5 linked regions of the Homo sapiens genome follow. The protein of the gene in region 4 purifies or fractionates together with the protein of the main gene of each other region. This does not show direct contact. Each region holds a gene or a part of one and is shown on either strand. Other genes may lie near its edges.

The links.
Region 1: the proteins of SLC12A7 (region 4) and PCDHGB5 purify together in Homo sapiens (co-immunoprecipitation; one large-scale study listed by IntAct). This does not show direct contact.
Region 2: the proteins of SLC12A7 (region 4) and SLC41A3 purify together in Homo sapiens (co-immunoprecipitation; one large-scale study listed by IntAct). This does not show direct contact.
Region 3: the proteins of SLC12A7 (region 4) and MTHFR purify together in Homo sapiens (affinity purification with mass spectrometry; one large-scale study listed by BioGRID and IntAct). This does not show direct contact.
Region 5: the proteins of SLC12A7 (region 4) and ZDHHC11 purify together in Homo sapiens (co-immunoprecipitation; one large-scale study listed by IntAct). This does not show direct contact.

The regions. Positions count from the first base shown.
Region 1 is NC_000005.10:141,491,485-141,495,785, reverse strand, and holds part of PCDHGB5 (protocadherin gamma-B5 isoform 1 precursor), read right to left. Parts: coding exon of another isoform or gene 3,909-4,301; intron 980-3,908; coding exon 921-979; intron 1-920. Other genes in the region: PCDHGC5 (protocadherin gamma-C5 isoform 1 precursor), read right to left, coding at 921-979, 4,086-4,301; PCDHGC4 (protocadherin gamma-C4 isoform 1 precursor), read right to left, coding at 921-979; PCDHGC3 (protocadherin gamma-C3 isoform 1 precursor), read right to left, coding at 921-979; PCDHGA12 (protocadherin gamma-A12 isoform 1 precursor), read right to left, coding at 921-979; PCDHGA11 (protocadherin gamma-A11 isoform 1 precursor), read right to left, coding at 921-979; PCDHGB7 (protocadherin gamma-B7 isoform 1 precursor), read right to left, coding at 921-979; PCDHGA10 (protocadherin gamma-A10 isoform 1 precursor), read right to left, coding at 921-979; PCDHGB6 (protocadherin gamma-B6 isoform 1 precursor), read right to left, coding at 921-979; PCDHGA9 (protocadherin gamma-A9 isoform 1 precursor), read right to left, coding at 921-979; PCDHGA8 (protocadherin gamma-A8 isoform 1 precursor), read right to left, coding at 921-979; and 11 more. UniProt on the Homo sapiens protein: Potential calcium-dependent cell-adhesion protein. May be involved in the establishment and maintenance of specific neuronal connections in the brain.
Region 2 is NC_000003.12:126,070,420-126,074,720, forward strand, and holds part of SLC41A3 (solute carrier family 41 member 3), read right to left. Parts: intron 1-4,301. UniProt on the Homo sapiens protein: Na(+)/Mg(2+) ion exchanger that acts as a predominant Mg(2+) efflux system at the mitochondrial inner membrane.
Region 3 is NC_000001.11:11,795,682-11,799,824, forward strand, and holds part of MTHFR (methylenetetrahydrofolate reductase (NADPH)), read right to left. Parts: intron 719-4,143; coding exon 525-718; intron 1-524. UniProt on the Homo sapiens protein: Catalyzes the conversion of 5,10-methylenetetrahydrofolate to 5-methyltetrahydrofolate, a cosubstrate for homocysteine remethylation to methionine. Represents a key regulatory connection between the folate and methionine cycles.
Region 4 is NC_000005.10:1,084,267-1,088,567, forward strand, and holds part of SLC12A7 (solute carrier family 12 member 7), read right to left. Parts: intron 4,095-4,301; coding exon 4,040-4,094; intron 2,768-4,039; coding exon 2,637-2,767; intron 1,208-2,636; coding exon 966-1,207; intron 1-965. UniProt on the Homo sapiens protein: Mediates electroneutral potassium-chloride cotransport when activated by cell swelling. May mediate K(+) uptake into Deiters' cells in the cochlea and contribute to K(+) recycling in the inner ear.
Region 5 is NC_000005.10:837,487-841,787, reverse strand, and holds part of ZDHHC11 (palmitoyltransferase ZDHHC11), read left to right. Parts: exon of another isoform or gene 1-95; coding exon of another isoform or gene 96-105; exon of another isoform or gene 106-943; coding exon of another isoform or gene 944-985; intron 986-1,137; coding exon 1,138-1,293; coding exon of another isoform or gene 1,294-1,369; exon of another isoform or gene 1,370-1,440; coding exon of another isoform or gene 1,441-1,569; exon of another isoform or gene 1,570-1,706; coding exon of another isoform or gene 1,707-1,816; exon of another isoform or gene 1,817-2,346; intron 2,347-3,249; coding exon of another isoform or gene 3,250-3,283; exon of another isoform or gene 3,284-4,301. UniProt on the Homo sapiens protein: Endoplasmic reticulum-localized palmitoyltransferase that could catalyze the addition of palmitate onto various protein substrates and be involved in a variety of cellular processes.

The sequences.
Region 1 (4,301 bases), about 140 Mb from region 4:
AGAAAAGAGGTCCAGGACAAGGACAGGGAGGCAGAGATAGAGAAGGAGAAAGAGACTAAGGGTCCCGTGTAGTTACTCACTCCACATTTATTGAGCACTTATGCCATGGCAGGCACAGTGGGCGGCACAGATCAATGCAAGTAGACAAATGAAAGGGACTGAGGCTGAGGTGCAGCAATCAAGACGGAAGCTAAGACAGAGATGGAGAAGAGAGGGAGAGGCAGAGATTGCAAAGCGAGATAGAGACTGAGGGAAGGACTGAGAGGTAAGAGAAAGTGGCAAAGACGGAAACTCAAGAAAAAGGGGCAGAGACACGGAGACCCCACAGACAGAGAGCAGGACAAGTAGGGGCAGAGGACAGTGGGAGGAGGGGCCGGAGAAGGGGGCCTGCTCCATGCCCCGCCCAGTCCTTCCTCAGTTCCACCTCCAGCTGTGCTGCCTCCACTCTCCCCAGGCTGCAGTCAGCCTCGGCTCTGGAGGCTCTGGAGGAGGCGCTGAGTGCGGACCGCCTCCTCCGGTCAAATGCTTTTCTGCCTGAGCCCCAGGTCATAATGGAGCCCAGCTCAACTCAGGGGAGGGGGTTAGGCAGTACATGGGCATAGAAAGCCTCGCTTTCACCCAGAGACCAGCTTAAGACCATCCTTTGGTTCCACAGTGCCCTCAGGGGATAGGAAAAGGTGCCGGTCGTGGCGAGGAGGGAAGGGGCAAGCATGTGAATTGAGCTTCCTGAACAGTCAGGGCAGTCGCCTCTTCCTTCCGGGGTCTGTGTGCCAGCCCCCCGCACACCAAGACCTCCCTGGGATCTCAAACTGAGGGAGAAGCCATCTGTAGCAAATGCTGGGCCCTCCCCCATCTCCTCCCACGTCATCCCTGAGAAAATGCCGCAGAGAAGAGGGTGGGCTGGAGAATCAGTCACCTACCCGCTGGTGCCGGGTCTCTGGGCCTGAGAGAAACGCCAGTCCGTGTTGGGCGGGGCTTGCTGTGGAGAAAACAGAGGGAAAGGGGCTGAGTACCCGTGAGAAGTTAGAATGTCACCCGAGCCCCTAGGGATGGGCCGGGAGAGAAGGAGGGGAGTGGGCACAGAGAAGAAAACGGACTAAGAGGGGGCAGGGGTGGACTCATCTCCAAAGACAAAATACACCTCAGGTCTCAGAGGTCTGAGGTACCAGAAACCAAGAGATAAATCACATTTCATCTGACCACAGTGAGCAAGCTGAGACTCCTTTCCTAAAGAAATGGCCCCTTCCTCCCTGCCCCCAGAGTCAGAACTCCTGAGCCAAAATTCAAGGACTGAAGGCATCTTCTGTGGAACTGGGGGAAGAGGTGCAGACAAAGCCCCCTAAAGTGGCAAAGGAGGCTTTTCAATGAGAATTCTACCAGCCCTAGAATGAATTTATTCAACTCCTCAGCTGGGAACAAAGCATCCTCTGCAGCAAGATGGCTGCTGTTCTTGGTAACCCTTTTGGTGCCAGGTTGTGCAGTGACACATTCACAGGGACATCTTCTCTGGGCCCTTGGCTTGCAAGAATCTCTTCCCACAGCTAAATACATTATTAATTTAGGAGTCATGCCAGATTGGGCCTTTGCGGGGCATCCAAGTCCCGGGACACTTCTCACCCCTAGAACTCCGTGCCAGACAATGGTCTGTGACTAAGGAGAAGAGAACAAGGCTGCTCTGTCTGAGACGGAGAAAAATGGAAGGGATGCAGCGGGGAGGGATCCAGCTCCCACAGCCTCCAAGCAGGGCCAACTAAGTCTCCAGGGCTCCCAAGGGGCTGATGTGTAGCCATCTCCCACCTAGCTGAAGGTGTGGGGCTCTGGCCAGCCACTTCATTCCTGAGTCCCTTCTGGTCTTTCCAGGGGGTGTGTTATCCCATCACACACTCTCATGGAGCACTCCTAGAGCCACCTCCTCACTGGTTCTGGGGTGGGCTGGTAATTAATACTCATACTTGCTCCCAGAAGCAGAGAGTGTGAGTATCTCAGATTACTCCAGGGAGAAGGAAGCTCCGGAACTGCCAGTGGCTCACTCAAGGCTCACAGGTGGCAGTGATATGAGCAGAACCCAGAAACCTAGCATTCCAGGTGTATCGGGAGTCACCAGCACCATTCTGGGGCTGCCATGGAGAAGGGCACAGGGATGGCCAGCCCTCAGCCACTGTATTCTTAGACACAGCAGAATCTACATGGAAATGCAGTGATTGTGATAGGAGGAAACGGAGCTGGGGGAACTCAATCTCCAAAAGGATAACTGGCCAAGTTTGCGCTGCGGGGACTGCTCAGAAATGAGGAGCCACAGAAGACTTTCCCCACATGTAAGGTCCTAAAAGGGAAGGAACCCCACCCTTGCCCCATCCCAGCAGAAGCAAAATCCCAGCAGAGGCAACTCCCCTCTCCTGTCCTCAAGCTTTTAAAGTTCCAAGTGCCAAGAAATTAAAAGCACACATTCTGGAGTTAGACAGGGGTTAGAATCTCTCTTACTTGCTCTGTGAACTTGAGCAAGTCACTTGACCTCTGTGAAGCTGTTATAAGAGAGGCATGTTAGTACCTAGCCAACAGCAATGGTGGGAAGAGCAAATGAGATGAGGTTCTCAAAGGAGTTATATAGTAAGTTTCTCTCAATCAGCTATCAAAATCACCTGGGGGTGTTTCAAAATACAGTCCTAGGAGCAGAGTTAGGCATTGATATATTTTGAATAAAAGCTCCTGGAGTTGGAGAAACTTGTGTTTTTTACTATTGTAGTTTCCTCACACATAAGGGCACCCTGGCATCTGGCAGAGCCTATAGCTTTCCATCTGCCAGAGGAGACAGGACTTGTTAGAGTGTCAGATAGTTTGGTCACCTCCAAATCTCTGACCCTAGATCGCTGGGCACATTGTGATCACGACGGCGCCAAAAGCCTGTATCTCTGGGGGTTGAGAGCCAGGGCGCTCGAGGCTTTCACTTCCTGCGGGAGGAAGGGGCCGCTGGTGCCACTGGAGTCCCAGTCCTGCTGTCCTATAGAGGCTCACTCACTCGCCCAACGCGGAGCCCTGCCGCGCCTCGGCCACTGGGCAGCTCTGCCTGTCCGCCTGCTCGAGGCTTCTGGGTTGAGGGGTCGCCGACCCTTGAGACGGAGTCCCGGGACCATCCGGACCTCTGGCCCAAGGATCGTAGAGTCCTGCCCGCCCGGCACTTAGAGCGGCAGTCGCTCCAGCGCTCCTGGCCCCGCGCCTCGCTCAGGCCGCCCCCCAGGCGACCCGGCCCAGCCCGGGGCGCAGGTGGGAGAGGTGAGAGGAGGCTCCGGAGTCCTCGCCTGGTCCTGGGCGGCCGCGATCTGGGACCCTCAGGCGCGCACAATCAGCTACGAGTACTCCTGAGCCCGGCGGAGGGAGCGGCAGAGGGGAGCTGCGAGTGGACCGGAACAGGCCTGTGAATCTGGCCGCGAGCGAGTGGCAGTGAAAGCTGGTATTCGCGTAAGCCCACGTGCGAGGAGTGCGTGCGTGCGTCCGCGCACGTGTTGGCGGGGCGTGGCGAGCCCGTGCAACTTGTGTGGGCCGTGGGGGTGGCCAGCAGGGAGGACACGCATGAGCCCCGCGCGCACACCTAAGTCCCGCAGACAGGTGCGGTTGGGTGATGCGGGGATAGGGAGGGTAACAGTGAAGTCACAGATGCTGGGAGCTGGGGAGAAATCGAAGAGGAAATCTACAGACCGGCGAAGCGTGCCGGAGCCGGCGCCTAGGAGGCTGGCTGCAGGGGTGGATCTGTGACTGCCTCCTCCCGGGACCCCCGACACCCGCGGAAATCGCCCGAAATTCACCGGAAGCTCGAAGGAGGCCCCGGCCTTTTTTGAGTGTAGGGGTGGGGGTCGGTCCCACCTCCCCTCGCCCACAGTCGCCACCACCCCCGGTGCTCGGAGCCCCATCCCTTAATCGGCCACTCTGGTTTCGCGCAAACGGTCCAATGATCCCGAGAATCGGGTGGAGCGCAGCCAGCGACCAAGCCGGCCGGAGAGGAGTGGATGCAAGTTCAATCCCTTATGAGGACGGGCGGCTTCTCCAGTGCCGCCCCCAGGGGTCGCCCGGGGCGGCGCCGAGCCCCTCACCTGGCTCCGCTCCCGCAGCGTATTAGAGCGGGACCGGATGGCGTCAGGCTCCAGCGCCAGAGCTGTGGGCTGCTGAACGCTGAGGGGTCTTAGAAAAGTGAAGTCACTGCCGTCCGAGGCCGGTGAAAAGCACGTCCTGTAGCAGTGGCTCTGCGAGTCTGTGGGCCGCAGCGTCACCTCCATGTACTTGAGCGTGCCGTCCGAGCTCACCTGCAG
Region 2 (4,301 bases), on a different chromosome or scaffold from region 4:
AGAGGTGGAACAGTTTCATCCCCAAACCAGTGCCTCCCCTCCGCCCCAGTCCATCGAAAAATTGTCTTCAACAAAACCAGTCTCTGGTGGCAAAAAGGTTGGGGACCACTGCTCTATAAGATTAACAGCTCATTTTTCATCAGAAATAGAAGCCAGAAGGCAACAGGATGGCATCAAAGTGCTCAAAGAACAAAAGCTGTCACCTAAGAATTCTTAACTAGCAAAATTATCTTTTCAAAGTAAAGGAGAAATTAAGAGATTTTCAGATAAACAGACACAGAGCATTCGTCCCCAGCACACCTGCCCTAAAGGAAACACGAAAGGGAGTCTTTAAGGCCGAATTAGGATCCTAGACACTAGCTAGAATCCACACAGAGGAAGGAAGAGCATCGGCAAAGGTAACCACCTAGACAGATTTTTTTTTTTAAGTATAAACACATTTTTGTTAGTAACTCTTTTTACTCTTATCCAATTTAAAGACAACCACATAAATCAAGTTGGAATTAAGTTGTTATTGATCCAAACACGATTATTATAAACCAAGGTGCTGATTGTAATCCTCAGGGCAACTGCTAAGAAAAAAAAATATAAAAGAAATAACAAGTGAATAAAAGTGATACACTAGGAAAGATCTACTTAGTACAAAACAATGCAGTAATGGGGAAACAGGGAAAAAAGACATTAGACAGACAGAAAACAAATAGCAAAATGGCAGACATAAATCCCATCTTATCAATTATTACATTAAGTATAAATGGATAGGTTGGAAGTAAAAGGATTTAAATAAATATACCATGCAAACAATAACCAAAAGATAACTGGAGTGGCTTTAATACTATTAATAATATCAGGCAAAACAGACATAAAAACAAGAATTCTTACTACAGACAAAGAAGGATATTTGATAATGATAAAAGGGTCAATCTATCAAGAAGCTATAACAATTACAAACGTACATATGCCTAACAACAAAGCCCCCAAATACATAAAAGTGGCAGAACTGAAGGAAGAAAAAGACAATTCAATAATAATAGTTGGACATACCTCACTTCCAACAATTGATAATACAATTTGACAGAATTTCAACAAAAGAAAGAGGACTTCAACAACATTATAAACCAATTAGATCAAACACATCTATACAAAACACTCCGCGCAACAATAGCAGAATACTCAATCTTATCAAGTGCACATGGAACATTTTGCAGGCTTGATCTATCTTAGGAAAAATAACTTCAATAATTTAAGACTGAAATCATACAAAATATGTTTTCCAACCACAACAAAATAAAATTAGAAATCAATAACAGAAGGACATTTAGGAAATTTATAAATATGCGGAAATTAAACAACTTTTTTTTTTTTTTTTGAGATAGGGTCTTATTCTGGCACCCAGGCTGGAGTGCAATGGCATGATCACAGCTCACTGCAGCTTAGACCTCTGGGGCTCATGTAATCCTCCCTTCTCAGCCCCCCAAGTAGCTGGGACTACAGGTGTGTGCCACCATGCCCAGCTAAATTATTTTTTAAAGTTTTGTAGAGATGGGATATCACTGTGTTGCTCAGGCTGGTCTCAAACTCCTGAGCTCAAGTGATCTGCTCACCTCGGCCTCCCAAAGTGCTAGGATTACAGGCATGAGCCACCATGCCCCAGCCCATACTCTTAAATAAGTAATGGGTCAAAGACAAAAATCACAAGATAAATTAGAAATTTCTTTGAGATGAATGAAAATGAAAATACAACATGCCAAAAAATCATGGCATGTGTTAATGTAGTGCTTAGAGGGAAGTTTATAGCTATAACTATCAATTTCTTTAAAAAGAAATGAACAAATTAATAAATCAATTTTCCACCTTAAGATAAAGAGGAGCAAACTAAACCCAAAAAAGTAGAAGGCAGGAATTAATATAGATTAGACTGGTAATAAATGAAAGAGAATTGTAAAAAAAAATAAAAAAAAAAAAAGGCCAGCAAAACCAAAAGTTGGGTCCTTGAAGAGATCGACAAAACTGACAATCCTTTATGTAGACTGATGAAGAAAAAAAGACAGAAGACTCAAATAGTTAAATTAGGAATGAAAGAGGAAACATTACAACCAAAACTAAACATAACTATAAGAGAATATATGATTAACTGTAAGCCAACAAATTGGAAAAGCCACCAGTCAGAATGGCTATTATTAAAAAGTCAAAAAATAACAGATGCTGGTGAGGTTGTAGACAAAAGGGAATGCTTATACACTGCTTGTGGGAATGTAAATTAGTTCAGCCATTGTGGAAAGCAGTGGAGGTGATTTCTCAAAGAACTTAAAACAGAAGTACCATTCAACCCAGCAATCCCATTATTGGGTGTATACCCAAAGAAATATACATCATTCTACCATAAAGACACACGCACAGGTATGTTCATCGCAGCACTATTCACAATAGCAAAGACACAAAATCAGCCTAATGCCTGTCAACAGAAGACTGAATAAAGAATATGTAGTACATATGCCCATGGAACACTATGCAGCCATGAAAAAACAAGATCATGTCATCTGCAGCAACATGGATGGAACTGGAGGCCATAATCCTAAACAACCTAATGCAGAAACAGAAACCCAATACCATGTTTCACTTATAAGTGAGAGCCAAACATTGGGTACACATGCATATAAAGAAGGGAACAACAGACACCAGGGCCTACTTGAGAACAGAGGGTGAGAGGAGAAAGAGGATCAAAAAAACTACCTATCTGGCCAGATGCAGTGGCTCATGCCTGTAATCCCAGCACTTTGGGAGGCCGAGGCAAGCAGATTGCTTGAGCTCAGGAGTTGAAGACCAGCTTAGGCAAGATGGTGAAACCCTCTACAAAAAATACAAAAATTAGCCAGTCATGGTGGAGTGTACCTGTAGTCCCAGCTACTCAGGAGGCTGAGGCAGGTGGCGCTTGAGCGTGGGAGGCGGAGGTTGCAGTGAGCCGAGATTGCACCACTGCACTCCAGCCTGGGTGGCAGAACAAGACCCTGTCTCAGAAAAAAAACAAAAACAAACAAACAAAATCCAAAAAACTACTTATTAGGTACTATGTTTATTACCTGGGTGACAAAATCATCTGTACACCAAACCCCCATGATACCTAATTTATAACAAACCTGCACATGTACCCCTGAACCTAAACGTTAAAAAATAAATAAAGCTAAAAAAATTAGAAAACCTAGATGAAATGTACAAATTCCTAGAAACACAAACTAGTAATACTGACTCGTGAAGAAATAAAAAATATTAATAGATCTACAGATAAAGAGATTGAATTAGTAATCAAAAAACTTCCCACAAAGAAAAGCTTAACACCAGATGGCTTCACTAGAGAAGTCTACCAAGCATTTAAAAAAAAATAACACAAATCCTTCATAAACTCTCAACAACAAATTGGAGAAGGGAACACTTCCCAACCGCTTGTATGAGACCAGTGTAAAGACAACCCAAGAAAGCTACAGACCAATGTGTGTTATGAATACAGACACAAAATCCTCAGCAGAATACTAATAAACTCAAGCCACTAGTACATACAAAGACTTTTACAATATAACCAAGTGGGATTTATTTCAGGAATGCAAAGTTGGTTCAATATATGAAAATCAATGTAATACACCAAATTAATAGAATAATGGGGAGAAAACATAGCTCAACAGACACAGAAAAAGCATTTGGCAACAACTAACACTCTTTCACGATAAAAACACTTTAAAAAGTTAGCTTTGGGTTTCTCATAGATGCCCTTAGTCAGGATGAGGACATTCCCTTCTATTCCTAGACATTAAGACAAGAATTCTTACCACAGACAAAGAAGGATATTTGATAATGATAAGAGGAATAGAAGGGAATGTTCTCATCCTGATTAAGGGCATCTGTGAGAAACCCAAAGCTAACAAACTTAGCGAGAGTCTGAAAGTTTTCCCACTAAGATTAGGAACAAGACAAGAATCCCTGTTTTTGCCAATTCTATTAAACACTGTACCTGAGGTTCTAGCCAGCACAATTCAGCAAGGAAAAGAAATGAGACGTATCCAGCTTGAAAAGGAAGAAGTAAAATTATCCCTGTTTACAGACGACATAATCTTATACGTAAAAAATCATAAGGGATCCACATACACACAAACTATTACAGCCAGTAAACAAGTTCAGCAAGGTGTAGGACTGGAGGACGCAGGTCAATACACGAAAGTCAGTTTTTTTGTTTTGTTGTTGTTTGGGTTTTTGGGTTGTTTGGTTGTTGTTTTTTTTTTGTTGTTTTGAGACAGGCTCTCACTCTGTCA
Region 3 (4,143 bases), on a different chromosome or scaffold from region 4:
TGGGTTGAGCCAGCCTTTTAGCCCTAGATGTGTCTGTTGGTAACATGGTGTCATCTAACCCAGCTGTTCCCATGCTGCACTGATCATCCGAATCACCTGCCAAGCTCAAGAAGTAAAACACACATTCCGAGGACCTCCCTCAGATTTACTGAGTGAGAACCTCCAGGGGTGGGACCTGGAGATCCACTTTTTGAAAAAGCTTATCAAGTGGTTCTGATGACAGCCACCTTTGGGAAACACTGATTTAAGCAGGATTTGTAATGAGAATTAGAATCCCTTTTGGTGATGCTTGTTGGCCAAAGTACAACAAACCCCTCAACAGACACTGTTGCTGGGTTTTGGGGGGAAAATTAGAGGTAACCAAAATGGGGTGGCCAAGCAACGCTGTGCAAGTTCTGGACCTGAGAGGAGATCTGGGAAGAACTCAGCGAACTCAGCACTCCACCCAGAGCCCCCAGCCTGTGCGAGGACGGTGCGGTGAGAGTGGGGTGGAGGGAGCTTATGGGCTCTCCTGGGCCCCTCACCTGGATGGGAAAGATCCCGGGGACGATGGGGCAAGTGATGCCCATGTCGGTGCATGCCTTCACAAAGCGGAAGAATGTGTCAGCCTCAAAGAAAAGCTGCGTGATGATGAAATCGGCTCCCGCAGACACCTTCTCCTTCAAGTGCTTCAGGTCAGCCTCAAAGCTCCCTGCTTCGGGGTGGCCTTTGGGGTAACCTGCCAATAGGGATGACAGTCAGGAGAGGCTGGCCTCCACCTGTTCAAGGCGAGGGATGAAGAGACCACAGGGACTGGGCAGAGAGAGTCCTCTGCTTTGGGGGCTCTGATCTTGCACCTTCCAACAGCACAGCACAGCCTGAACTAAAACAGTGAGTGGCTGGGCTCATGACTGATATGCTTCTGACCCCAGAGATGACTCTCAGGGGAGGTGGCTCAGAGCCCAGTTCCAAGAGTGGGGGTGGATTGCTCCAAACTCCCACACTGTCCTGCCTTGAGCAGCCAAGCAAATCAGGCCTGCACTTGGTGGCCATAGAAAAGAGAAAATGCTACAGTTAGCACTGGCTGGGCAGCATCTGGGGTAGTAAGCTTGACTTTTCTCTAGGCACCGGATTAAACATTGTTTTTAATGTAACACTGAAATTACTCAGGGGTCCAAGATAGTGAAAAGCTAAAAACCAAGTTACACAAGGAAGAACTGAAGAAAGTGATGTTTTCTTCAAAGAAAATAATGGATGGCAGGGTGCGGTGGCTCATGTCTGTAATCCCAGCACTTTGGGAGGCCAAGGCAGGAGGATGACCTGAGGTCAGGAGTTCGAGACCAGCCTGGCCAACATGGTAAAACCCCGTCTCTACCAAAAATACAAAAATTAGCCAGGTGTGGTGGTGTATGCCTGTAATAGCTACTCAGGAGGCTGAGTCAGGAAAATTGCTTGAACCCACGAGACAGAGGTTGCAGTGAGCCGAGATCGTACCATTGCACTCTAGCCTGGGCAACGAGAGCGAAACTCCGTCTCAAAAAAAAAAAAAAAAAAAAGAATGAAAAGAATACAGAAACTCCTTTCAAATGTCCAAAGGTCTGTCCTGGGGAAAAAGGATCCACCATAGGTGAGTTTGTTTTGTTTTGTTTCAGAGACAGGGTCTTGCTCTGTCACCCAGGCTAGAGTGCAGTGATACAATCATGGCTCACTGTAGCCTTGAACTCCCGGGCACAAGTGATCTCCCACTTCAGTCTCCTGAGTAGCTTGGACTACAGATGCAAGCCACCACATCTGGCTAATTAAAAAAAATTTTTTTAATTAATTATTTATTTTTTAGAGATGGGGTCTTGCTATCTTGTCCAGGTTTGTCTGGAACTTCTGGGCTCAAGCAATCCTCCCACCTTGGCCTCCCAAAGTGCTGAGATTACAGGCATGAGCCACTGTACCCAGCCCCCTAGTGAAGTTCTTTATTAGTCATATTCTGTGTTGTTTCTAATGGCAGAACCAGCATCCGGTTCAGAGAGCTGGCTAGAGTACTATAAGCCACTCACAAAACAATGAGCTCCTGGAGTCTGAAAACACAGGGGCAGTGGATGCTGAAGACAAGATTCCAGAATTGCTTAGGAGGTGGGATCAGATGTCCCATAGGCTCCTTACTGGCTCTGTGAACTCTCTGACCCCTTTCCTCAATGACTAAACTTACTAGCCGCCTTGCTCGGTCAGGCAAGCAGGATGACCATAGGCCTTCATGAAACTACATGGAGTGCTGGTTTCATCAGCCCAAGCCCAGGGCAGGACTCTGAGCCAGGCGGAAGGCCAAGCTGCTTTGCTCTGATAAGGCAGTTCCGTTCTTAAGAAACCCAGAGTCATCAAAAAATGAATATAAAAACTATTGTTTCAAGGGGTAAGGGAGTGGGGGATAAAGCAATGGGGCTTCACACTTGCAATAACAAAGCTATTTTCCCAGTAGGAATTTCAGAAACAACAAGGCTTTTTAATAGCTGAAAAGTATAGCTACAATACCTAAATATCACCGAACAAATCTAGCATTTGATTACGTATAGATTTTGCTATTTACTCTATTTTTCTATCATGAACAGCTGAGGGCTTTCTTTTTTAAAATGTTTTTATTTTTTGTAGAGACACGGTCTCACTGTGTTGCCCAGGCTGGTCTTGATCTCCTGCCTCAGTCTCCCAAAGCTCTGGGATTACAGGCATGAGCTACCATGCCCAACAGGTTGGTGTTTTCTAATCCACTCATCTTCATTACCCACTTGATAAGCAAAGTAAGAAACCATTCAGCAACTGTGAGCTCACAGCTTCACTAGTTTCCAATCATTATCACCTAACGCCCATCACGGGTGCATATTCCCCCAGTAACTGACTATATAATGGCTGATACAAGCGATGACAATTTAACAGTTGGAAATGTCTGTTCTCTGACTCCTAATCAGTGCTTCCCAGACTTAGCACCTAAACACCCCTGTTGACAGAATGGACATGTCCATCGGGGGTTAGGGACAAGGCCAAAGTTACTCACAACATGTAATTTTCTTGAAGCCACGTGGTTTGTTTTTTGGGTTTTTTGTTTTGTTTTTTTTGAGACGGAGTCTGGCTCTGTTGCCCAGGCTACAGTGCATTGGTGCGATCTCGGCTCACTGCAAGCTCCGCCTCCTGGGTTCAAGCGATTCTCCTGCCTCAGCCTACCAAGTAGCTGGGACTACAGGCACGCGCCACCATGCCCGGCTAATTTTTGTATTTTTAGTAGAGACGGGGTTTCACTATGTTGGACAGGATGGTCTCAAACTCCTGATCTCATGATCCACCCGCCTTGGCCTCCCAAAGTGCTGGGATTATAGGCTTCAGCCACCGCACCTGGCCTTTTTTTTTTAGTTCATATCACTTTAGATGCTACTCCATAACATAGCCATGTTTAATATAAAAATGGTAGGATTTCTCCCAGAATATTGGCAAAAAAACTGTCATCCCAGAAAATGTGCCAATCCCGGGACTTCCTGTCCCTGGTGCACACTGTCTTGCCATACCTGAGCGCTGTCTGAGACGCTGAGGGCTCAATGCCAGCCTTCAGCTTCAAGGGTGGGAGAGAAGTCCAACCCACCCATTTCTGTTGGGGGAACCTGGTCTTGTGGCTGTGGCCAATGGTGATTCTCTTTCCTGGGAATTTGGAACGGAGGCCTGTCCATTAGCCTGGGGAACTGGCTGGAACTGACACTCTGCACACTCAGGAGCAGGCCAGGTGTGTGGAAAAGCATGGGTATCAGGTCTCCCAGATGAAGCACAGATGTGCAGTGGGAAGCGGAGATGGGGGACCCTGTGGCCCCAGAGGGAATGAGGGAGGGCCTTGCTTTTTGACCTCTTCCAGTGCCTTGTGAGGTCTGAGGCCATCTCCTGATCTTGGGTTCCCTGCCCTCTGGAATCCTGTTAGTAAATATCCCTCTTTTGTGGGGTGTTGTTTTTTTTTTTTTTTTGAGATGGAGTCTTGCTCTGCCACTGAGGCTGGACTGCAGCGGCACCATCTCGGCTCACTGCAACCTCCGCCTCTTGGGTCCAAGAGATTCTCCTGGCTCAGCCTCCTGAGTAGCTGGGACTACAGCCGTGCACCACCACACCTGGCTAATTTTTGTATTTTTAGTAGAGACGGGG
Region 4 (4,301 bases):
CCAAACGTGCTAAATGAAGCGTTCTAGACGTAAACAATTCACACGTTTTCCACCGCGCGGTGCCGAGTAGTGAGGTGGAACCCAGCAACCTCCCCCCGCGCCAGCACAGCCACGCTGCAGCCGCTCCCTCCCCGAGGCCCTCGGCGGCGTCCTGGCCGGGTCAGCTGTCACAATCTCAGTGTCTGAGTTCAAGCCACCCTCGTGCCACGTGCCAACGGCCAAGAGCACAGGAGTGCCGCCCCCGACGTATAAGCCAGGCCTGTACGTGGAAAACAGTCTACACAGGGCCGTAGCGTCAAGCATCGGCAGGGGGTCTCAGGACGGGTCCCCGAGGGGGAGGGCAGCTGTGCTTCCCTAAAACGGGCTTGTGGGGTTGCAGCTGTTCTGCCTCCCTCTGTTTTGAGGCCTCTATGAGGCTGTTCCTTCAGGGGCTCCCTCCACGCAGAGACGGCAAAACCGCGGGAGCCTCAAGGGGCTTGGCTGCTGGCCCTTTCTGGACCTGCTCCCTGCGGGCTCTGGTGGCCACTCCCATGTTCCAGGACCCTGGGCCGCCTCCCAGCTGCTCCTCCAAAAGGACAAGAAAAGAGCCCCTCCAAGCACCTCTGGGAGGGAGAAGACACCCAGGCCCCAGCAGCAGCCAGGGCCACACCCATGACGCTCACTGCACCTGACCGTGCTCAGGGCCACCGGCCACCCCTGAAACCTGCCAGACCCCTCACCAGCCCTCCTGCCACTGAGGAGGGTCTTCATGCTCAGACCCGGCCACGAGGGTACCTCGGCCCACCTCACCGTTGGGTTTCCTGTAATCCCCAGAACGAGCCCACGGGGGTTCCCGCCACGGTCACACCCAGCCCACCCCTTGCGGGGAGCTCGGCGTCAAGGATGATGGACGAGAGGCGGGCAGAGCCCATGGGACCTGGCCCCAGCCCCACACCCACCCACGGCTCAGAGGCCCCGAGACTCACGGGATGTCCGGGGGGTCGAAGGCAGACTTGATGACGCCGGCATAGATGGCCAGGATGGACAGCACGACGCAGGCCAGGAAGACCAGCGCCAGCTTGTTGACATACTTGACGCCCACGAAGACCACCAGGGCCATGAGCACGAGCGTGCACGTGCCGTACACACGCATGTTGTGCAGCATGGCGGCCGCCTCGCCACCTGCAGCCTCCGCCTGGAAGATGGCCGCACCCGGGGAGATGTACGTCTGTGGGAACAAGGCCGGTCGGGAGGCCGTCCCCGGACACAACTCCCCAGTGCCCGTCCCTCCCGCAAGCCCCCAGCGCCACACAGGGGCCTCCTCCCAACAGGTGCCGGGGCCATCGGGACGCATCCGTGCTGGACGGAGCCCGCGGGGGTCAGCGCACAGGCAAGGGACGGAGCCCGCGGGGGTCAGCGCACAGGCGAGGGACGGAGCCCGCGGGGGTCAGCGCACAGGCGAGGGACGGAGCCCGCGGGGGTCAGCGCACAGGCCATGGACAGCCAGGGGCCTGAACGTTTCCCAGGAACCACCCGGGAGCCTTAGAGTAAAGCAACTTCAGGACCCGGGGCATCCGCATGTCCGCACTCAAAAGAAACACCTTCTGCTAAGAGGAATGTGACTGCTGCCCAGAGAGCTCGGCCCACCCCGGCTGGACGTCCTGGACACACACAGGGTCTGACCACGCCGGCGGGGGGCAACCTCTGTTCTGCCCAGATTCAAGGGAAGGGACGGAGACGTGAGACAGTGCTGCTCAGCTCCCTCAAGACCAGGACAGGACTGGGGTGCAGCAGGCATGGAGGGCATGGCACCCACCCCCACCAAAGGGGATCCTGGGAGTGCGGCAGCCACGGCACCCGGGGCAGGTGGAAAGATGGAGGGACATGGCCAGGGGACTCGGGTTGGGACGGGTGTGGGTGCGACCCCACTGAAAGGTTTCAGAACCTTCTTGGCCATGTGGCTCTCTTCAGGAACCCAGGAGGCCAGGAACCAGGTCTGGCAGCAGAGGGAGGGGCAGAAAGACTGGGGACAGGGGCTCAGGTGAGCGTCTCTGAAGCCCTGCAGGGACAGCGGGTTTCAGAACCTCAGCAGGAAGGACAGCACCCGTCGGCCAGAGAAGGGCGGTTCCCGTCCCCACGAGGACCAAGGAACTCAGGCCACAGCTCTCAGCTGTGCTCAGGTGATGTGGGACATGCTTTGAGCATGCCTGTTTTGAGAAGGTGATGACATCACCTGGTTGTACATTGCTGGGCTCTGGGACCCTCGGCCAAGTGCCCAGATCAGGCAGAGAAGAGGCTGGGATCCTGGCAAAAGGTTCTTCTAAGCCGAGTTCCAGCCCTGCTCCTAAAACAGCTCCGACTGCAGGACTGCACCTACGCGGGGCTCAGATCTACAGTCCAGATGTCTACCCAGCTCATGCCAGGCACGCCTCACGGAGGGCAGCAATGGTGCTCAAGGGGGACACAGGTCGCTGCTGAGTGGACGCTGCCCAGTGGCTTCCGCCATGGCCAGAGCCCAGGAGAGCCCAGGGGCAGCCAGGGCAGTGGGGTCAGGATGGCTCAGTGTGCTGTGTGTGCCACAGAGTGGGTCAGGCAGGGCCCCTTGGCATCCTGCCACAGACTGTGGGGTGGGAACCCTTCCAAAGCAGCACACTTACCAGAAAAATCTCGATGGTCCCCAAAATATACATGGCCCCTGCAAACGTCGTGCCCAGGTAGAAGCAGAGGCCGACAGCGCCTCCAAACTCGGGTCCCAGCGAGCGCGATATCATGTAGTAGGACCCGCCAGCTGCGGAGACAAAGGCGGCAGCCGCGGGTCAGGGGCGCACTTGGACTCGGACCCGAGGTGCGGTCTGCGCTGCCATTCACGGGCAAAGGAGGGCCTGTCTCTGCGAAGGCAGCGTGTAGACCCTCGTCCACCCGCAAAGCAGCACATGGAGACGCTTCCACGGTGAACTCTCCCCTCCCGAGGCTCGGCACACGTTCCACACCAAGAGCACGCGCTCTCATGGACATGAGGACCAGGTGAGATCAGGGATAAGGCTCTCTGGGGAGCAGGAGGCCCCAGCAGGTCCCAGAAAAAGTCCCGCGTACATCAGTGGCAGCCCCAGCCCCCACTTCCACTAAGTTTTGCTTATGAAAAAGGCAAAAGAGAAACTAGGATGTTCAGGAGTCGTCTCGTGTACTGTGAACCACGCACGCTATCACTGGCGGGAAAGCCGGGCGCAACCCCAGGGCTGCCTGGAGAACACAGCTCTCCCTGCTCTGAGCAGTGCGTGTGGCATGTGGAAGGGGTCCTAATGGACGCGGCCATCGTGAAGCAGAGACTGGTCCCTTGGCTGCGGAGGGAGACCCCTGGTGAAGGCCCTCGTGCTCTCCTGAGGCCGGGGAAGTCCGCTGAGCACCAAGCGATGCCCCCGTGGGGATGGGGACCAGCTGCGTGAGGACCTGGTGCTGAGCAAGCCCAGCCGTTAACACGCGCAGCACACATGCACTCAGAAGCAGACGTGGCAGCGTCTCCGTTCACTAGTTATTTCGTATCGTAATTCGTTTATTACTAATTAACAGTATCATCTCAGTTTACTAGTTATTACGTATTGTAATTAACTTATTACTAATTAATATCATCTCGGTTCACTAGTTATTTAGTTATTATGTATTGTAATTAACTTATTACTAATTAACAAGGTCAGGGCAGTGTTTTGTCTTCACCTTCCCTCGTGAGATACAGGTTCCAAGAACTCAGCCTATGGCACACGCTGGGCTACAGGAGCCACTGGAATCGCCCGTGCCTCCCCCTCCCCAGCCCGCTGCCTGGTGGGCACTGCCTACCCTGGCAAGAGACGGTCACCACGCAGCAAAATGGGGAAGAAAACCAAACAGCCGTGACCTCACGGCTCAAACGCCAGAGGAGCCAGTGGAGAACACGCAGAAGGCCCGGCTGAGACCCCCAGGCAGCCCCCGGCCCGGCCTCGCCAAGCGGCCTCCTCGCGGTTGCCGTGCGGCAAAACACAGACTCCTCTAACAGGACTCAGGGCCGCGGCTGGCGGGCACCCCTTACCTGGGACCACACCGTTGGTAGCGATCGCACTCATGGAAATGGCGGTCAGCATTGTCTGCAAAAAGACAGGCAGCCATCTGAGGAGAGTTTTCCAACAGCCTGCCGGCATCGCAACACTCCCAAGTCAGGGTCTATGACCCGGCTCCCGCCGAATGCCAGCCCCCAACTCCAGGGCTCTCCATCTCAATGGAGTGGCTAGGAAACAGGACCTGGAGGCTCCCGGGCACCAGGCATGCGTGTCCTGGTTCCCACCCCTTCCCCT
Region 5 (4,301 bases), 250 kb from region 4:
TGCCTGGCCCTCTGCCATTCTGCATTACGCCTGATTTTTGGAAGTGTGGTTTTGAGTGTTGGCAGCCCAGTGTCACAGAGGACCATATCTTAGAAATGACCCCAGGCGAGAGCTGTGGCTTTCCTGTTCTATTTGAAGGCAGCTGTTTTAGGGTGCAGCGGGTCCAGGGACACAGAGTGGGCCATGAGCAAGGGATGGGTGCTGGGGCCTGGCAGAGCTGGCAGGCTCTGTGACCCCGGCACTTAGGAAGGGGTGGGCACCGTGACCCTGGCACTAAATAAGGAAGGGATGGGTGCTGTGACCCTGGCACTTAGTGAGGAAGGGGTGGGCACTGTGACCCCGGCACTTAGTGAGGAAGGGGTGGGCACTGTGACCCCGGCACTTAGTGAGGAAGGGGTGGGCACTGTGACCCTGGCACTTAGTGAGGAAGGGGTGGGCACTGTGACCCCGGCACTTAGTAAGGAAGGGGTGGGCACTGTGACCCTGGCACTTAGTAAGGAAGGGGTGGGTGCTGGGGCCCTGGCACTTAGGAAAGGATGGGTGCTGGGGCCCGGCAGAGCCGGCAGGCACTGTGACCCCAGCACTTAGGAAGGGGTGGGTGCTGTGACCCCGGCACTTAGGAAGGGGTGGGCACTGTGACCCTGGCACTAAATAAGGAAGGGATGGGTGCTGTGACCCTGGCACTTAGTGAGGAAGGGGTGGGCACTGTGACCCCGGCACTTAGTGAGGAAGGGGTGGGCACTGTGACCCCGGCACTTAGTGAGGAAGGGGGGTGGGCGCTGTGACCCCGGCACTTAGGAAGGGGTGGGCGCTGTGACCCTGGCTCTTAGTGAGCAAGGGGTGGGCGCTGTGACCCCAGCACTTAGGAAGGGGTGGGCACTGTGACCCCGGCACTTAGTGACAATGTTGGAGCCTCACCTCCCAGATCCATAAAGCAGGGATCATGAAAACCAACCGAAGGCAGCAGGGCCTACGGGGCACTCAGGTAAGGGAGGCGTCCACCTGGGCAGGGAGACATCCCTCGCACTGGCTGTCCCCACACCGCCCCATCCCCAGCACGCTCTGGTCTGTGACGTCCACCTGATGTGGCACCCGTCAGCAGGTGCTGGACACAGTGGCTCTCCCTTGTCTCCCCAGATGTCAAGAATATGAACACGTGGCTGCTGTTCCTCCCCCTGTTCCCGGTGCAGGTGCAGACCCTGATAGTCGTGATCATCGGGATGCTCGTGCTCCTGCTGGACTTTCTTGGCTTGGTGCACCTGGGCCAGCTGCTCATCTTCCACATCTACCTGAGTATGTCCCCCACCCTAAGCCCCCGATCCCCCCAAGGCTGGGTGGTCAGAGCTGCTCATCTTACACCTCTACTTGAGTATGTCCCTAACCCTGAGCCCCCCACGCCTGGGGCCAGAGTCTTTGTCCCCCGTGTGCGCATGTGTTCAGGGTCAGCCTCTCCCAGAAGTGAGATCATGGACAAAAAGGGCAAATCACAGGAAGAAATTAAATCCATGAGGACCCAGCAGGCCCAGCAAGAAGCTGAACTCACGCCGAGACCTGCAGGAGTGGTGCCAGGTGCTTGAAGTAACAAGTTTAAAATGTTCAGAGACAATGGAATGGAATCTATTAGGCAAGAACAGGACATTATGAAATAAGGACAGGTGGACTTCCAAAAACACAAGTAGAAATTCTAACAATGAAATATATTACAGGCAGGTCACCCACTAACCAAACAACTGAAGCGAGAGCTGGTGGTCTTGCTTGGTCTCACAGTGGGCACAGCGGTAGGCGGTCAGTCATGTTGCTGAACGACGGAGGGTAAACTCCCCAGCCCCAAGGAAACCTGTGTTGGAAGTAACAACAACCTCCCTGCTCCTGGCACCAGCCGTTTTGGTCATGGTGGGCCAGCTGCAAAGCGTCTTCCATTCTCTGGGCAGTGGTGGCCCCGAGGCTGTGGCCTCTCAGGGGGTTTCTGTGGACACGGGCAGCAGAGTGTGTCCAGGCCAGCCCCCAAGAATGCCCTGCTCCTGACAGCTTGGCCAACCCCTGGTCAGGGCAGAGGGAGTTGGGTGGGTCAGGCTCTGGGCTCACCTCCATCTCCAGAGCATCCCCTGCCTGCAGTTGTGGCAAGAACGCCCAGCTCAGAATGAACACACCCCACCAAGAGCCTCCTTGTTCATAACCACAGGTTACCCTACAAACCACTGTCCCCACACAACCCTGGGGATGTTTTAAAACACACACCTCTAACGCATATCTTACAGTCACTGTTGTCTTGCCTGAGGGTTGAATTTTTTTTAATGAAAGTGCAATGAAAATCACTGGATTAAATCCTACGGACACAGAGCTGAATGTGCTGTTTTCAGAGTTTTAATTTTGGATGTCAAGGCCAGTGCCTGTATAGAATAGGTGCTTAGGATATGTTTACTGAATGGAATGGAACTAAAGCCTCAGGTGTAACTTCATGGAGACACGCGTCTGCCTTGTAGAATGTTACAGGCTGCCTGTTCCTGAAGCTGAAACCCTTAAGAGTGAGAAGTCATTTGGGCCTCCTTCAAAACTCTCCACCCTTCTTAGAATCAGGAATATTTTTAAAAGTACTTTCTAGAATTATCTAGCAATCTCTCTTATATTTAAATATTTTTGGGTTTACCACCTATGAAGGCTTTTCTGGAGTTTCACTCCACCCAGAATTCATCATCTCTCCTTATCAGGAAATCTCTCACCCTCAGATGCTTAGAGTCAGGGTGAGTCCCCCCACAACAGGAGAATCGGCCGAGGTTGGGCCGAGGCCACATGGTCTCATCCACATGTGCCGCAGATTAAGGGATGCTCAAACTGCCCAGTAATACAAAGTCTGCACTTGTCATTTTTTTCCAACTTTGTGTACAAAATGTTTCCCTGGGTTAAAATAGTCAATGCCCACTGTGTGCTGAGCACGTGGGGTGCTGCAGGCCCTTGTGCTGCAGAGAAGCTGGCCCTTGCCTCAGGCGGCAGAGCAGGGAAGTGCAGTGGGCCTGAAGCCATGCGGGGCTGGGAGGGATGACCTGGTCTGTCCTCTGAGCCAGGCACTGCACTTGGAATGGGCTTCTTGAACGCAAAGCCCAGACCAAGTGTGGCAGAAACATGAAAGGACAGGCAGTCGGCTGCTGTGGGCGGGAGGCAGGACGCCCAGGCCTGTCCCCACCCCCGTGACCCAGAGCCTCCCTGGGCAGTGACTCCAGGATGTCCAGGAGCTTCTTCTCTACCTCACAGGACTGGAGAGGCTGTGGTGAGACGCATCCTGTGAAGGCTGGGCTGGCCACAGGCAGCTCCCCAGGGCGCCCACCGCCATCTGCTCCTCACTGCAAATAGGCCTCTGTGGGCGGCCGCCCCAGTCTCCAGAAATAGTCACAAGACATCGGCTCTCACGGTGTTGGTGTTTAGGGAAAGAAGCATGGAGAGTTTGGCCCCTCCATGGAAGCTCGTGGCTGAAATAGGTGCAGAGCCCATTTTATTAACGTTTGTTAAGACGGCTCTTTTAGATAAACGGGTGTATCAGGTTTTGCTTTGCTTCCCTGGGCTGCTTTGCTGCCTGCAGGACAGGCCAGGTGGGTAGGGCTCTGGCCAGCCTGCTGAGCTGTCCTGTGGGCACTGTGCAGGGCTGCAGGGATGGTGACCTGTCTCAGCCCCATCAGAGGCTGTGCTGAGTGGCACTCACAGCACTCGTGTTCACCTCCTGGGCCTGGGGCTCTCAGCACGCTCAGGAGTGTGTGGTCCCAGGACCCGCTAGCCAGCACCTCGGGGTGGCCGCCCCACTGCGTGGTCCTCCGACTGTGGGGTCTCTGTGCATCCCCCAAGGTGCGCCCCACCCAGTGTCCAGATGTGGGGAACCCCACAGGCCATCTGGACCCTCAGACAGAGCGGCCCCTCCTGAGCTGGTCTCTTACCCCTGCCAGCGATCCCAGGGGATCTGGAGCAACCTCTCAAGCTGCATGGTATAGGGGACCCAGGTCTGTGAGAGACAGCTCATCTCTGACACCACTAACAATGCAGCTCAATGAGGCCGTGGCAGGCGGCAGGGGCGTGGGTCAGCACTGTTCCCCAGGTCGCAGCTGCAGACCCCTCCTGCTGACCATCAGCTAGCTGCAGAACTGGGCCCACAAGGCACCTGCACTCATCCTGACCTCACAGGGCCTGCATGGTGGGCGGAGCAGTTCTCCCTGTGCAGGGGCCGGATCAGTGGCACTGGCCACTCTGCTGAGCTGTCCTGTGGGCGCCGTGCAAAGCCGCAGGGCTGGTATCTTGTCCTGTTCCTCCTTTTCCCT